Regions from separate parts of the Homo sapiens genome. Here region 2 is linked to region 1. The links come from fine-mapping of genetic effects on gene expression. A gene starts in region 1. The other region holds a variant in brackets. All regions are shown on one strand. Distances are from middle to middle.

Region 1 (8,334 bases):
GGATGCTGAGTAAAACACCAAGGACTTGATTCTGTTGTGGTTGGTGATAACCTACAATAGTTACCAAGTAAATGCAGACTCTTTCAAATTTCCCAGTTTCCCAGAGGCACAACCTGAAGTCTTCAACCACCACTAACAGGAGAAAATATGTTTAAAAGAATACTAAGGAGCTTTCAAAAGGATTAAGAAATGGCTCGGGGGCCGGGCGCGGTGGCTCACACCTGCAATCCCAGCACTTTGGGAGGCAGAGGCGGGCAGGTCACGAGGTCAGCAGATCGAGACCATCCTGGCTAACACGGTGAAACCCAGTCTCTACTAAAAATACAAAAAATTAGCCAGGTGTGGTGGCAGGCGCCTGTAGTCCCAGCTACTAAGGAAGCTGAGGCAGGAGAATCGCTTGAACCAGGAGGCGGAGTTTGCAGTGAGCCGAGATCGCGCCACTGCACTCCATTCTGGGGCGATAGAGCGAGACTCCGTCTCAAAACAAAGAAAAAAAAAAAGAAAGAAAGAAATGGCTCGGCTGCGCTCCATTCTGGGGCGATAGAGCGAGACTCCGTCTCAAAACAAAGAAAAAAAAAAAGAAAGAAAGAAATGGCTCGGCGTGGTGGCTCACACCTGTAATCCCAGCACTTTGGGAGGCTGAGGCAGGCAGATCACTTGATGTCAGGAATTCGAGAACAGCCTGGCCAACATAGTGAAACCCTGTCTCTACTAAAAATACAAAAATTAGCCTGGCACGGTGGTGCGTGCCTGTAATCCAAGCTACTCAGGAGGCTGAGGTACAAGAATTCCTTGAACCCGAGAGGCAGAGGTTGTAGCGAGCCGAGATTACACCACCGCACTTCAGCCTGGACAAAAGAGTAAGACTCCATCTCAAAAAAAACAAACCAAAAAAAAGGTAAGAATGGAGAGTCTGGGAGGAAAAGTTATAGGAGTCAGAATTATTTGCTGACAGATTTTGATAGTCAGCAATGCACCCAGAACTGTGCTTTTAAAGACAGGTGATATGTCTGCTGCTGAACAGAAGAAAAGGAAATAGATTTGCAATGGAGGCACAGAGATTTGCAATGGAGGCACAGATAATGGCTAGGGGGAACTTTGAATGATGAAGACAGTTGACTTTAAAGCAGCAAGAGTGGCTTTCTGGGTAACGTGGAAAATTCTGGATAATGTGGGAAATAGGTAAAGGATAAAGATGCATGCTTATGACTGTTTCCATGCTAACTCGGGAGCACACAAAGCCAAAGAAAATTCTGTCCTTCCAGATCTCTAGCTCATAGATCCCCAAAATTTTTGTGTCCTATGGAAAATGCTAAGTTGGTGTGGGCTCCAACTCATATTTTAAAGCCTTTAATTGCAATGATGTGTTTATTCAATTCAGCAAATACTCAAAGTGCTAGCGTTCTTGGCTCAAAAAACTGACTTGCATCATATTTTTCATACATCTGCTGACTCTATTCACAATGACTGGAGCAACCATCCACAGTTGTGATCAAATTCTCCTCGAAGCTATCCATACTTGGCAGCCTTAAGGTCTATAAATGCTGAGTCTCCAGGCCAATCAGTTTAACTGTGCCCCAAGTTAGAAGCTTGAAAAGAGTTGATAGGATAAGCAGCAGACAGAATAGAGAGCCTTTGCTTTCTTCACCCTCTCTTCTAGAATCCAAATTTGTCCCCTGCACTGGAGTTAGAAAAGCTACCTGAAAGTCTTGCCACTATTCTTGGAATATTCAATACCAATTACTCCCTGGGCCTCAGTTTCTTCATCATAAAATGAGGGAGCTTGATGTTTCATCTATAAGGTTTCATTTCATTCAGAAGCCACTCTTCCAAGGGAAGAAAAGAAGGCTTTTTCTTAAAAAAAAAAAAAAAAAAGGACTTTTCCTCCTTTGCTTACCCATTTTCCAAGGTGTCTCTCTCATATCTGAGATTTCCTTCTGCGCCTCAGACTTGGTCATGCCTTACCTTTTTCTTTACCTCAAAGACTTGTGAGAATTCAAGGGCACTGTGCATCTGAAATTACTGTGTGGCATCAAAAGCAAAATACAGATTTAAGATAATGTTTCTTATATTTTTTGCCCTTTCTTCACACCGGAACACAGCTAGAACTCTGGGATCCTCCTGAAAGGACCTTCAGCAATTTTCAGTTGCCAAATAAATAGCTCTAGATACAAAGGGAAGTGCCTTGATCTATCAGGGTTATTTTGTTGAGTGAATGAATGAGAATTTTACTTATGAGGGGAGAAAAAGGAGATCAGCTGGCAGGAGAAATCTACGTTGTTCCGACCCGTGCTTTATATATTTAGTTGTTGCCGCGGCACTTTTCCCATTCAGACCAGGGCCCAAGGAGTAATTAATCTTTGTTTTTATTTTTATTTATTTATTTTTTTGAGATGGATCCTCACTCTGTCACCAGGCTGGAGTGCAGTGGCGCCATCTCAGCTCACTGCAACCTCCGATTCTGTGGTTCAAGCGAATCTCCCGCCTCAGTCTCCCGAGTAGCTGGGATTACAGGCATGTGCCACTACGCCCAGCTAGTTTTTTTTTGTATTTTTAGTGGAGACGGGGTTTCACCAGGTTGGCCAGGATGGTCTTGATCTCCTGACCTCATGATCCGCCCGCTTCGGCCTCCCAAAGTGCTGGGATTACAGGCGTGAGCCACAGTGCCTGGCCCAGGAGTAATTAATCTTAAACAAGCTATCTTTAGCAAGCAAAAGCATCTTACAAAGTACAGTAACTGAGGCTATCAAGCATGTAAAGAAAGCATTTTCTAGAAGCTTAGAGATGGATCCCCGAACACTCTGTAACCCTCTGTTAACAGTCTAAGGAATTCTGTTCTGAATTTGGGGGCTCTTCTCCAGGCAGTCAGGGTTTTGAATTCTATTTACAATTCCTCTGCTCTCTATGGCCTAGAATGATTGAACCAAGTCTCTAGATCACTGTAGGAGACATCAACCTTTAACAATACATTCTTGAGGAGAAGAGACTCGTGTAAGAAACTATCTTGTAAGAAGGGATGAGAATTACCCTAATGATGTAACTGACAACACAGTTTCTAGTTTTTCCTTTCTTTCCTTCCTTCTCCATTTTTTCCAGTTTCATATCCTTGTTTGTTCATGCTACATGAATACTTGAAGTTGATAGAGTTGGCTTTAACTTAGGAACCTTTGCTTAGAAAGTCAATATCCTGGCCTTTCCCAGAGTACTTGACTTCCTGCAAACCTTGTTAATAATACTTTGTTTTTTAAAATGTTGGAGAACTTCAGCCATTGCAGCCTCTTGCTAAGAAGCAAAAGCTATAATGACAGAGAAGCCCCAAAGTGCAGTGGAACCAGGGATCTCCGGGGAGAGTGGTGGTTTCCTGGGCCCCCCCAGAGAACCCAAGGCTGTGCTGGAGATGCTGCCGTGACAGGTGGAGGCGTGGAGAGGCACCTGGCAAGTCCTCAAACGCCTCCCCCTTGATTTAGCTCCTCTAGCTAAGGATACGCATTCCTTTGGGTTTCAGGTTTTTCTTCCCTAAAAAGAGAATCCCCAAACTGGACAAGCAGGTTACATTCACACAATAGCGTGAATGAATTCGCTGGTCGCCCTTCAGATTCTCATTTTGGAATCTCGAAGAAAGAGAGGTGGTGGGAGGAGGGCGCTTGAAACTTCTGGCGATGCCAGTTCAGATCGATTCCAGCTATGACGGAGCGGGAAGTGGATAAAGAGGACCCCAAGTCACAGGAGGCACTCTGAGAGCACCAAGCGCCCGGGGAGGCCATCCGCAGGTGGGCGCGGGGCCTGGATTCCACAGAGGGGCGGAGTCCCTCAGTCAGGCGCTGGCTGCAATCACACCCGAGCGCCAGCCCCCTCCAGCATCCCTGAGTCCCAGAGGAGATCGCCGAAGCGCTGGAAAAGCCGTTCCGCCCACGACTTCTGGTGCCGGGTCGGCGGCGACTGGGGGAGCCCAGTTCCGAGACCGTACCGCACCCACTGCGGACCTCCTGGGCCCTACATAGTAGGCGGGTCATGCAGGGCAGCGGGAGGAGGGGCGTGGGAGGGCCAAGGCCGCCGAGTCCCCGCTGTTCAGCCAGCAGGAGCGCCCCGCAGCCCTCCCGGGACACGGTGGACACGCTTGTCCCAGACCTGGGCGCCCTCCTGCCGGGAGCCAGGACTGGCCGCAGCAGGCGCTGTCCGGGCCCGTGGGCGGGGTTTCGGGAGGGGGCGGAGCCAGGCCCACGGCCGGTGTCAGGTTGCTCCGGTAACGGTGACGTTTCGCGGCGTGGGCGGGGCCAGCACGCAGGTTGCATATTTTAGGAAGTGAGGAGGAGGCGCGGGCTGGAGCTGCGGCGGGGTCTGGGGCGCAGAGCAGCGGCGGGAGGAGGCGGACACGTGGCAACAGCGGTAGCAGCCCGGGCGGCGGCAGCAACAGCGGCGGCGGCATCGGCCCGAGCCGCCGGCCGCCCTCCCACCCTCCCGCCCCGCGGCAGCCCTAGCTCCCTCCACTTGGCTCCCCTGGTCCCGCTCGCTCGGCCGGGAGCTGCTCTGTGCTTTTCTCTCTGATTCTCCAGCGACAGGACCCGGCGCCGGGCACTGAGCACCGCCACCATGGGGAAGGGGGTGAGTGTCCGGCGCGCCCGGGGAGGGGGCTCGGGGAGCCCTCGAGGGGAAGAGGAGGAAGTCGGGAGGGCGACCGCGGCCAGCGGGAGGCGGCGGAGGAGGAAGCGGCGCCGCGTGGAGTGGGCTGGCAGAGCCGCGCGGCTTAAAAGACGACGCAGTTTGGAAATGGAGGGAGCGCAGTAACGGGGGGCGGGGGAAGGGAGCGCCGAGGGGCTGGAGCGCGGCATTGCTTAGGGGGGTGGGCGGACCCTGGGCGGGGGCTGCGCGCCCCGGAGGCCGAGCGGGCCGGGGGCTCCGAGAGGCGGTGCTTGGGAAGCCTCGGGGCCGGGAGGAGGGGGCTTGCAGCAGCGGGGGCGGCCCCGGGACTGAGCCGGCATCCCTGAGCCTGGCTCCCCTCCCTGCGACCGCCGTCACCTCCTTCTCCTTCCTTTTCCCTCCGCCCTCCGTGCCCTGAGGAAAGGCGCGCTCCTCCCCTTCCCCTGGGGCGCTCCGCCGGGGCCTCCTCCCGGGCCTCCGTTCCCGCCGCGGCCCCGGTTCCGGCGGGGGCAGCCTCCGGGTTCGGGGCTCCTTCTCCTGGGGACGCTGGGGCTTAGCTTGCTCCGCGCAGAGGCGGCCGCCCTCCCCCAAAGAAAAAACTGGCTGCTTCTAAGTGCGAAGCCGGCTGGGCGGGCTGGTGCCAGAAAGGGTGTGTCTTCACTGCCCTAAGATGGCCTTTAAGGTATACTTTTGAGGGCTTTCTTGGGCCACTTTCCGTAAACACAGGATGCACCGATGGCAACTGGAGTTGTCATCCGATGGTGGGGAGAGGCGTGCAGATTTTTTTTGAAGGGACGAGCCCTGAAGGAGGATAGGCAGACCCACCAGGGCCTCAGGGTACAAGAAACCCGAAAAAGGACTGGAGGCTGCAGGCAATACGGTGGTAGGAATCTCTGCCGGTTTCCAGCGTCGCGGAAGCACCAAAGGGCGGTCCCTGAAGGAAACGAGGGGTCTTGGGGCTGGAGAGCGGCGCGGAGCGTGGTGGGAATATCGTCACAACGCCGCTGTCCTACATTTCTGTAGCGAAGACTTGATTACCCCTAGCTATTACCCGTGCAGGAGACTGGGCCCTGGACCCCAAATGAGCCAAAGTCTAGTTGAGAAAAATTTACACAGAATAACCTCGGAGTTCATGGGGTGAAAGTGACCATGTCATGAGAATACAAATGGGAGAGAATCCACTTCGTTGTCTCCAGGGTTTAGCACAGTGCAGACACTGAGTAGGTCTTTGAAGGCCCTGAGGCTTCTGGGTGTAGACAGAGTGTCGGGAGCAGAGGGAGGCTGCACTCCTTGGGGACTCTAAGGGAGTTTTAAAGGAGGTAATTGAAAGGCTTGGACCTGGTGGGGAGAACAGGCACAAGTGGAAATGCACAACTCGCCTCGCTTTTAAAAGCATGCAGCGTGGAGGGCTGGTCCAGGTCAGGTGGCATCAAAGAGCGGAGTACAGGGCCTCTCCATTCCCCTGATGGAGTCTGGGTTAGTGGCCTGTGCTTTTACCACACCGTCAAACCCTTGATCATTTCTGTAAACATGCACTTTAAAGCTCATTCTTTGTCTCTCCTGCCTTAAAAGAAAAAGAAAAAAGTTTACTTCCTGAGCTAATTTTGGGGGGTTTAGACATCACAGATGTGTGCCCCAAGCCTAGGAAGGTGAAGTGACTTGCTCAAGGTCAAACGGTTGGCTAGTGACAGACTAGGCGTCCCTGATTCTTGAACAGCCTGTGGCCTCAAGCCTGAACATGCATTTACTCTTTAACATTGAGTTCTTTATACAGAACTCAGAACTTCGGATGAAACGGGGTATTTGTGATGTTGAATTAATAGGCCATGGAGATGGTTTGGGTAACTAAGTTATGTCCATTTATCTAGATGTCTCCTTTATAACCACACACAGGCACACATGCACAGTAGTGATGCGGTGGTAACCCACCTGAATAGTTAGTAGAGCTTAAACCCAGATGTCTTACAACAAAATGTATAGTGGCTAGCAAACACAAGATTAAATTACAGCTGCGAACACTGGGATGATGAGCTGCTTGGCTGCTGGGTGGTAGTTAGCATTTTGAGTATTCTGATACATTAAACATTAGTTTACTTGTGTGTGTGTTTGTGTGTGTGTTTGTCCTGTGACTTATTGTGAGCGTCCAAATGTTCAGAAGAATATTTCATGTTGGGATTTTTCCACATGGGGATTAAAATGTGGGTGGAGAGTGACTAAAGCCCTGCTGATAATTGGCTAACAAGGAAGCCTGTGCCGGCAGCTAATTTTTAAGGTCATTGTAAATTTCTTCCCCTCCTCTCCTCAGTACCCTTTGTGGCCTAGCTTTTGATGATATTTCAGGTGATTTTATATGTCCTTAAAAGTCTAGTTCCTAAGCATTTGGTAAGAAAATGAAAGAACAGCTCTTGCTGAATCATTCCTGGATGAAATAGGATTTTGTCCCTTTTTTTCTTTCTGGGTTTTATTGCCAGTGACTTGGCTTAAACCGTCAGCTAGGCCTACCACCGGCAACTGTTTCACTCACCAAAGGTACACGCCATAACTGTTTAGAAATGTGGGAAAGTTTGTCTTCTCAAGTGTGTAAAAGATGAGGAGGGGGGGTCTCACCAGGTCTTTCACTGCATTCCGGATTTAGTTTGAATATTATTTACCGAAAAAATAAATCATAGCTTATGAGTAGTGATTTAAGGAAGGGCAGGGAAAAAAGGTTCCAGTGAAGGTGGCAGGGGGGATGCACATGTCAGCAGAAATCCTGGTTGTATGGTAATGTTATCAGCTGCCCTTTTGGAGCTCAGCTTGAAAGTGTGACTAAAGCTCCTCTGGCTGCTATAAAGCTAGTACTTTAGACTTAAAGCATTGTAAGGCAGATGCCTCAGAGTGGAAAGTTGCCCGGGCCTGGCCGGGAGCTAGTGGAGCAAGTTACAGGAAGAACTAGTGCCTAGAGCTGGGGGGTGGAGAGAGCACTTGTGCCTCACCCTTTGCCTGTCAGTTGTTCAGCGTGTAACAGTTCCCTGCTTCTTAGGTTCTTTCTGTACCCTTTTATAAGGGTGTATCCCCTTTTGGTAACTTACTGTTTGTTAATTTGTAGTGTTCCCTGCCAGTAAGCTTGTAACACTCTAGTGACTCACCTTCGGGTGGGAGGGTAGGAAAGGGAGAGGCCTGCCTCCTAAACCTGGGAAGATGGGGAGAGAGTGGTAAACCTGAGAGCCCAAAAAACAAACCAAAACAAAAAAACAAAAAAAAAGATGCCTTTAAAAATTCAGTTAGATGTTTGCCCAGATGAGGGCTAACACTTAAAATATACAGATTCCTGGGAATGTTATTCCTAAATTGCATTCAAAAATAAAAGTGAACTCAACATCTTATAGCACAATAGGCTTGGCACTCATCCATGCTCCATGCCAGTACCCTCAGTCATTGTTTTCGGATTATTTTAGCAACAAATGAACAGATAAGTGACTTTCCATTCAAATCAGGCTATGTTCTTTTAAATATATCTAAACTTAAGAATAAGAAAGGCTTTAACTAAAATAGCTTTGAAGGATTTTGTATGGTAAAGTAAAATTGGTTTCTTCACTTAAAAACAAACAGGTTTAAAAGTAAAATAAAATAAAAGCCCTGAAGCTTCAGTTTCTCATCTGGCTTTTGGATAGAATGCTCATCCTGGGGATCAAGTGAAGTAATCTATGTTCTGTT
Region 2 (8,334 bases), 22 kb after region 1:
TTTCTTTTTTTTTTTTAAGCTCATGGCAGCTTTTTCTTTCTTTTTTGTTTTTTTTTTTTTTATCATTTAGTGAAGAGTCAAGGGTATGGGATATTGATTTTTTGCATGTCAGTAGAAACTTTAAATTGCCCTACAAACGTGACTGAAGAATGCCTAAAATGTGATTGGTTTCATTAATTGGGAAATGAGATGTATCACTGCAGATTTCTATGGGACTTTAATAGGAGAACTGAGAACACAGCCTTTGAAGTTAATGCATTGTTGTTCTGTTGTGTTTTCTTGCCTCCATCAGGTGTCTCTTTTGACAAGACTTCAGCTACCTGGCTTGCTCTGTCCAGAATTGCAGGTCTTTGTAACAGGGCAGTGTTTCAGGCTAACCAGGAAAACCTACCTATTCTTAAGGTATGCTCAAGAGTTAACTAATGGAGGGATGTAGACAGCACATGAGAACTGCCATTTGAGTGTTAAAAGTAGCAAATTACCTTTGTGGTCTGTGTGACTGTTCACTGTAGAACACCTGGAGTGGTCTGTGCAGTACTTTGCTGTGTGTAACTTACATTGTGTTGCCTGTAGATCCTGATGTATTATAGGACCCCCTGCTCCATATAGGTTGATTAAAAAGGGAAGATGCAGTAAAAATCTGACCAAAGTGGGAGGGGAGGAGACGGAAGACAGTCTTTATTGGTGAAAAACCTAATTCATCTGCTTTTACTACTCTTGAGTTTATATGTTATCACCTAACCTAGTGGACAGTGAGAGCTGAGGGCTGCAGTGACTCCATAATCGTATTTGCATATTAGGATACAGTAGATTCCAGTAACTCCTTTAAGCCATTTATTTTCCTGAAATAGCTCAGCTTATCTTATCTTATTGGTTCTTAGCTTGTTTACTAATGATGTAAAAATAAGCTCCAGGCCAAAATAAGCCCAGCCTTAGCCTGTGGAATTCTGATGCAGTTTGAAATGATTGAGATTTTACTATGCTGCCCAAGTGAAGATGCAGTCTCAGAAGGATCATGAATTGTACAAAGTCCTGTAGGAGAAGAAAGCTATGTGAGGCTCTCTGGGTCCCACATTCTCTGTGAAGCTGCCTGTAGTAGTTGTGGGTATAAACTAAGTTGCCAAAGGGAATATGGCTTGGATGTAACTCAGATGCCTTCTGTGATGAGGATAGGGTTCATTTATTCTGCAAAGGAGATTTTCTTGGCATTGAATTGATGTTGATTTGAGGATAATGTTGTGTATCTTGAGGATAAAACTTGAGATAAATGTTTCATGTTTTTCTTTACCTCAAAGTGGAAATGTTCTAGGCTTTGAGCATCAGGTCCCACAAGTATCAAATCTTTCCTGATTAAAAAACCCCAGAAAGGTAGCAGAAGCTGTATTCCAAGTATTTCTGGAGTTCGGCCATGTTGATGGCATTATTACTAAAAAGCGGGGAGGGAGAAGCAGCCCTATTCTGCTTTTATTAAAAATGGCTTTTATTAAAATAAGTGGCTTTTATTTAAAATGTCCCCCACTTATTTTGTGTTTCTTTCCAAACCCAGCCAACTTTCTTGCTCTGTGGAGCTGCTATACTTCTGAGCATTGATCTGTTCATCTGCATATGCAGCCTTACATGTTAAGGTTCTAAAAGGTTTACCTATATAAAATTTGTTTACAACTGAAAATGCTTTCAGTATGTCAAAATATAAGTGTGTCATCATGTATCATAGAAAATATGTGTGTCACTGAAGCATGGGCTTTAACTAAAATGTTACGTGGTTCGATTTTATTACTGTTGGAGTTGGTAATAGCTTTCAGTTCACATCCTTCAGGCCCAGTTAATTTTGCACAGTTATGATTAGAATGCACAGTCTTCTACTTTGCCCTTGACACAGGCAGCTTGTCCCCAGTCCTGAGACCTTAAGCATTTTCTTACGAATTCTACGGTAATGAAAGGTGCTATAAATGTTTAATCTCTCACTTGGTATTTTCAGATAAGTAACCAGAAGTAGGTAGTTGGGAATAGCATTGGCTTTGAGACTTTTCAGTAGGCCAGGGGAAGATAGAAATAGACTGCAGTAGGTTGGAAGGGTGTGTTAATACCTCTTCTAGGGAAGGTGACACCTTCCCACACCCTTCTTTCACTAGAAGCTGCTGTGGGGTGGGGAAGGACGTTGGGGTTTGAGTCTGAAGCACTGTGAACAGCAGTGGTCGGGGCTAGAGGGACTCCTGTCCCACTTAACACCGCTGCTTCCTTCTTGCCCATCCTCTGCTACCTCTGACAAGATTGGAATGTGTCTTGAGTTATTTTTCCTGTTTTTTAGTGATGCCTCAGTGAAATTTTTTGGAGATAATTTACAGATGATGTCTCTGTTCACAGCGGGCAGTTGCAGGAGATGCCTCTGAGTCAGCACTCTTAAAGTGCATAGAGCTGTGCTGTGGTTCCGTGAAGGAGATGAGAGAAAGATACGCCAAAATCGTCGAGATACCCTTCAACTCCACCAACAAGTACCAGGTCTGAAGATCGATGGGTACACGGAGGGCGAGGGCAAGCTGGGGGACAAAGAGGGGAGGTACATGAGCAGGAAGAGGAAATATTCTCCCTTTGGAGTTTTATAAGCTTTAGCTTTAAATTTTGCCCTTGATTACCATAGAATGCCATAATTTAGTTGAATATCAGCAGGATAAATGAAGCCTCTTGCAAAACACTGTTGAGCCCTTTTGAATACTTGTGGTTTGGGGTGGGTGTGGGCATGTGGGGAGGTGGCTGGAGGTATGTGTACACAAGTGTTCCCCAATCCCTGTGTTCTGAAATTTCGTATGTTCTTTTTTAATGTGAACAAATGTCAGGAATTTATGAATATATCATAGTGCTCATTTTTTTTTTTTTCTGTAGCATTCAAAGTATGTTACAGGTGTAAGATACTTCAGAGTTCAGAAAGAAGGGATCTTGGGTCTTTTATAGCAAATACTAAATAGTAAGTGAAGCTTTGTTTTCCACCATGGACTGCCACACATCCAACCATCCAATGTTTATGTCTCAACAATCCTTCACAGTTGTCTATTCATAAGAACCCCAACACATCGGAGCCCCAACACCTGTTGGTGATGAAGGGCGCCCCAGAAAGGATCCTAGACCGTTGCAGCTCTATCCTCCTCCACGGCAAGGAGCAGCCCCTGGATGAGGAGCTGAAAGACGCCTTTCAGAACGCCTATTTGGAGCTGGGGGGCCTCGGAGAACGAGTCCTAGGTATGCAGATAACCTGGTAACAGAGTGCCTGGGCACGTTTTTATCCAGTAACCTAGTCTGGTAGACAGTTAACAAGTGATCCTATGAACCTCTATGTCTTGTTGACCTTCCTCTACATCTTTTAGGGGCAATCCTCCTATTTGTTTATTTGCCCCCTATTATTTTGAAAACAATAAGTGCTGAAGAAATGTTCAGCGTATTGGGCTGTGAGAAACAACGTCCTGATGGTTTGCTTCTGACTTGTACTTAGACCTTTGGTCTCATGCTAGTCAGTTCTGTTTGTTTAAAAAAAAAAATGGTGGAAGAATATCTTTCTTATCTAACCTTTGTTGCTGTGGACATGACTTATAAGCCTAATTAAAGTTAATTAATTCTTAGTGTGTCTAAGTTAGACATACTATTTCCTGACTGCCTTGGAATGGGTGTGAATTTACATGAGCACTTATGTGCTCAGCTTAGAAACTAGACTAACGGTAAACTTTTAGTCTAAGATGCTACCTATTTTTTTCTACCCTGACAGCTACTGAGGCTGAGAAGTTCACTTTACCCATTGTCTAATGTATTTGGGAAAGTGGCATTTATAATACTTTGTAGGTTGACAGATACTACATTCATTATTTATATAATGCTTCCTATTCTTCTTAACTTGGGTAAATCTAACTCATGGTATCTTTCGTATGTGTCTATCCAACCGAAGGATTGCTATCTTCTCTTTAAGTGTTTTTCACTTCCCTACTTCCACCACCCCAAAGTGGAAGCAGTCTCTCTTCTTTTGAGTCCACATGGCACGTTAAAGATCATTGTAACGTCATACAACATTGAAAAGAATGTCTTACATTATCTTGATTCTTGTATTTACTATACTAGATGATAAACCCCCTGGGCAGAATGCATCTGATCTGTACTTATCCTCAAAAGTAGCTAGCATGATGTCCCACATTGGTGCTCAGTAATATGTTTCAGTTAAATGAACAAGAGAGCAGAGGTATGGCCTTGATGTTTCCAGAGAAGGCAGCTGAGGCAGATAATTCCATGATTTGCCAAATCCAAATAACTTAATGTCATCATCAGTGGGCAAGTCTAGAACCCTAATATCCTGGTGCTCAAAATTAGTGTTATCAATTCAGTCTTCTCCACATTAAACAATTTCCAATTCCTTTGAGGCCTGGTGTGATGGATTCTGTCTTTCAAATGCTTTTTTTCTTTCAGTGACTCTATCGTTCATAAATGTTAAATAAAACCCTCACTCTGTTATAAAAATATAGACTTTAAAAATTTTCCAAAGTAAACACTCCAGAGAAAGGTAGGCGGGCTGAATAGGCTGCTGTTGTCCTTCTTACTGCCCAGCGTCACTGAAATTTTCAAAGGCTCCTGTCCTCCTCGCAGGTTTCTGCCACCTCTTTCTGCCAGATGAACAGTTTCCTGAAGGGTTCCAGTTTGACACTGACGATGTGAATTTCCCT[A/G]TCGATAATCTGTGCTTTGTTGGGCTCATCTCCATGATTGACCCTCCACGGGCGGCCGTTCCTGATGCCGTGGGCAAATGTCGAAGTGCTGGAATTAAGGTAGTGCCCAGGCGCCTCCTTGGCTTCATCTCTTAGTGCCTTGGGACACCCTACTCAGTGAATGTTGCCTTTTGAGGTCCAGATGGCCAGCTGTTCTATCTCACCTGGAGTATTAATTTCTCATCTCCAAAGCTTTACTTCCACCCAGAAAAGACCAGATAGTATTAAAATATGATGGTGTAAACACACGAGGAATTAAAAATTTTTTGGAAAGCAATTGTGTAAAAAAGAAATGTAAGCAAAGTAAAAACAGCAAAAGACTTGAAGTTTTAAAATACTTGCATTATTCTAAGTTAATGTACCTTATGCAATGAATGGCATATCTTCTGTGTTTTCAGTTAACTGTTTGTTAATGAGTGTTTGGTGTCCTCTGTGTATCTGTCTTTTTTTAAGTAGCTGAATATTACTCAAGTGCACTAATATCCTGTTGCTGGGTATTTGGTTTCTGTTTTTTACTCTCAGGATTTTATTTTATTTATTTTTTGAGACAGAGTCTTGCTCTATTGCCCAGGCTGGAATGTCATAGCACGATCTCGGCTCACTGCAACCTCCGCCTCCCAGGTTCAAGCAATTCTCCTGCCCCAGCCTCCCAAGTAGCTGGAATTACAGGCACCCGCTACCACGCCCAGCTAATTTTTGTATTTTTAAGTAAAGATAGGGTTTCGCCACGTTGGCCAGGCTGGTCTCAAACTCCTGACCTCAGGTGATCTGCCCACCTCAGCCTCCCAAAGTGCTGGGGTTACAAGCGTGAGCCACCACACCCGGCCTACTCTCAGGATTAATACTGCCCTGAAAAGCTTTGTAGAAGTTATTTCCTCACCATTCCGACTGCTTCTTTTTAAAGTATATTCTAAGTATAATCACTGCATCAAAAAATAACAATTTTGAATTCTTGTCACATGTTGCTTTTCCTCCAAGTTGTGCCAATTTGAGAATGCTAGCCAGTAGCATGTGGTGTCTTCACAGTCCCACCAGCATCAGATTTTTATCCTTTTTTTTTTTTTTTTTTTTTGCTGGTTTTAGTAATTTTCAAGTATTTTTATGTAACTCTGTAGAAGGAAAAATAGACATTGTGTATGCTAGTGATTGTATACCAAGATAAAACCTGAGTATTGCCTTTGTGTTTCCTTTCTGTGGATATATATGTTTATATTTTTGGCTAATCGATGTTTATTAGTTTTATATTTGCATTCCTTTCCTTTTGATAGTCTAAGCCGAATCATCCTTAGTATTTACTCTTGCCTACTGGATATAAGACTTTAAGGTCATTTACTTGGCAGTTGCATTCAACACATTGTCTTGTTTATTACAGGTCATCATGGTCACAGGAGACCATCCAATCACAGCTAAAGCTATTGCCAAAGGTGTGGGCATCATCTCAGAAGGCAATGAGACCGTGGAAGACATTGCTGCCCGCCTCAACATCCCAGTCAGCCAGGTGAACCCCAGGTAAGGCAGGAAGCTCAAATCACAGTCTGCTGTGAACAAGCAAATAGTGATGGTTTAAAATCTTCAGCGTGGTTCTATAATGGTTTGCATCTAGGCTTGCTCTGAGTAGGAAATGTACCTGCACTGCCAGAAAGCAACCTTGTCATTCCTAAGAAGGGTTTTAAGTAAGAGCAAGTCATAATAATTAGCACTTAGATGGTATTTACTGTTCTAAGAGCTTGATATGGTGACCTATTATTTGCAGAGCAGGGAAGGTAAGGATTCAAGAGGCTTTTGAAGTACCTCAGAACTGGTGAAATCATGCAGTAAATTCAGCAGTCTAGCTTCTGATTTCATGCTGTTAACCACTGAGCTCTACTGCCTAGCACCTAGCATCTTGACACTTTCCAGGTCCACACTAACAAAATAAAATAAGGAAGGGACAATTACTTAGGCCATTCAGGCAAACACAGGAGACATTTGGCAATGAAGTAAAACAGATAATAGCAAATTGGTTTTGTTTTAAGGTTTAGGGCCCTTTCACCCTATGTTACGGTTAGAGGAGGGTTTGGTCTTGTATCAGCTCTGCCACTTTCTAAAACTTGGTTATATTTCTTTTTTTCTTTGATGGAGTCTCGCTCTGTCATCCCGGTTGGAGTGCAGTGTCATGATCTTGGCTCACTGCAACCTCCACCTCCTGAGTTCAAGTGATTCTCCTGCCTCAGCCTCCCAAGTAGCTGGGATTACAGGCCCCAACCACCATGCCCGGCTAATTTTTGAATTTTTAGACCACCATTTTGGCAAGCTGGTCTCGAACTCCTGACCTCAAGTGATCCACTCACCTCAGCCTCCCAAAGTGCTGGGATTACAGGCATGAGCCACACACCCAGCTAAAACTTGGTTATATTTCAGCATGTCTAATAAAGATAGGGAAAGGAAGAATACAGACAGGCCTGCCTTAGAGATCATCATGAGCCTCAAATGAGATAAAATATATGAAAATGCTCTGTAACCTGTAAAGTACTGAACACTTAATAGCTTTTATGTGCTGGGGAAAATTCCTTCTTTGTTTTGTTTACAAAGTGATCTGCATAAGAATATCCCCTCTTGAGGTGATGGACACATGCTGGTGATGTGATGCGTGACTTTTTTTTTTTTTTTGTCCTAATTCTAGGGATGCCAAGGCCTGCGTAGTACACGGCAGTGATCTAAAGGACATGACCTCCGAGCAGCTGGATGACATTTTGAAGTACCACACTGAGATAGTGTTTGCCAGGACCTCCCCTCAGCAGAAGCTCATCATTGTGGAAGGCTGCCAAAGACAGGTCAGCCAGCACAAGGATCAGGCTGCTTTGGGCACTATTGGCTTTAGGGATTGGAGTTCCAGTGGAAACAGAGCAACGGTGATGGATGGATGCATACCTCGCTGTATTAGACTCAGTATAAATAGGCCAGTAGGAAGCTCATAGGCATAGAGAGGGTGACTTGTTAATGGTTTAGCAGTGACAGAAGCACTTTAAAGTCCAGGTGTCCACTGTGTCCCAGAGCCTGACCGCTCCGTGGAGTCATCTGATATGGGGTCCTAGTATTTGCAATAGAGATGTGAGTGGTCAGACTACAGGGCGTGCATACAGGAATGGCATTTTCTGGAGTGCCACCCACCAGAGTCATTACTTTGAGTAGCTCTTGTTAATGCTGGGGGCTATGTTTGTTGTCACTTCTCAGTTCTGTTATTTGGTGTAGGGCCTGTGTGAATACTTGCCTGTGACGGTTCTCAGGCTTCATAAATAGTCTCAATAGGAAAGGAGCAGTGTCTGTAATGAGTGCTCAGTGGGGGCATGCATCGCACTATTTCCATCGCTAGGAAAAGTGATTGGTATTAACCCGTTTTCCCTTTTCTGGGGTAGGGTGCTATCGTGGCTGTGACTGGTGACGGTGTGAATGACTCTCCAGCTTTGAAGAAAGCAGACATTGGGGTTGCTATGGGGATTGCTGGCTCAGATGTGTCCAAGCAAGCTGCTGACATGATTCTTCTGGATGACAACTTTGCCTCAATTGTGACTGGAGTAGAGGAAGGTGAGAGCTATTTAAGGTGTACACCAAGATCTTA

The links.
Region 2: its variant is fine-mapped to the expression of ATP1A1 in whole blood (TOPMed, PIP above 0.99).

The regions. Positions count from the first base shown.
Region 1 is chr1:116,368,922-116,377,255 of GRCh38, forward strand. It overlaps ATP1A1 (ATPase Na+/K+ transporting subunit alpha 1), which reads left to right and starts at 4,323. Exons shown (of 23, transcript NM_000701.8): 1 at 4,323-4,602. The coding sequence starts at 4,591. RefSeq lists silencers at 3,950-4,479, 4,910-5,209 and an enhancer at 5,580-5,699.
Region 2 is chr1:116,390,490-116,398,823 of GRCh38, forward strand. It overlaps ATP1A1 (ATPase Na+/K+ transporting subunit alpha 1), which reads left to right. Exons shown (of 23, transcript NM_000701.8): 10 at 293-402; 11 at 2,365-2,499; 12 at 3,042-3,234; 13 at 4,621-4,796; 14 at 6,109-6,245; 15 at 7,399-7,549; 16 at 8,132-8,300. It overlaps ATP1A1-AS1 (ATP1A1 antisense RNA 1), which reads right to left. Exons shown (of 3, transcript NR_027646.1): 3 at 2,376-2,537. Among named protein-coding and RNA genes, the nearest start is that of ATP1A1, 21 kb to the left of the region's middle. The variant A/G (reference allele first, on the strand shown) is at 4,698.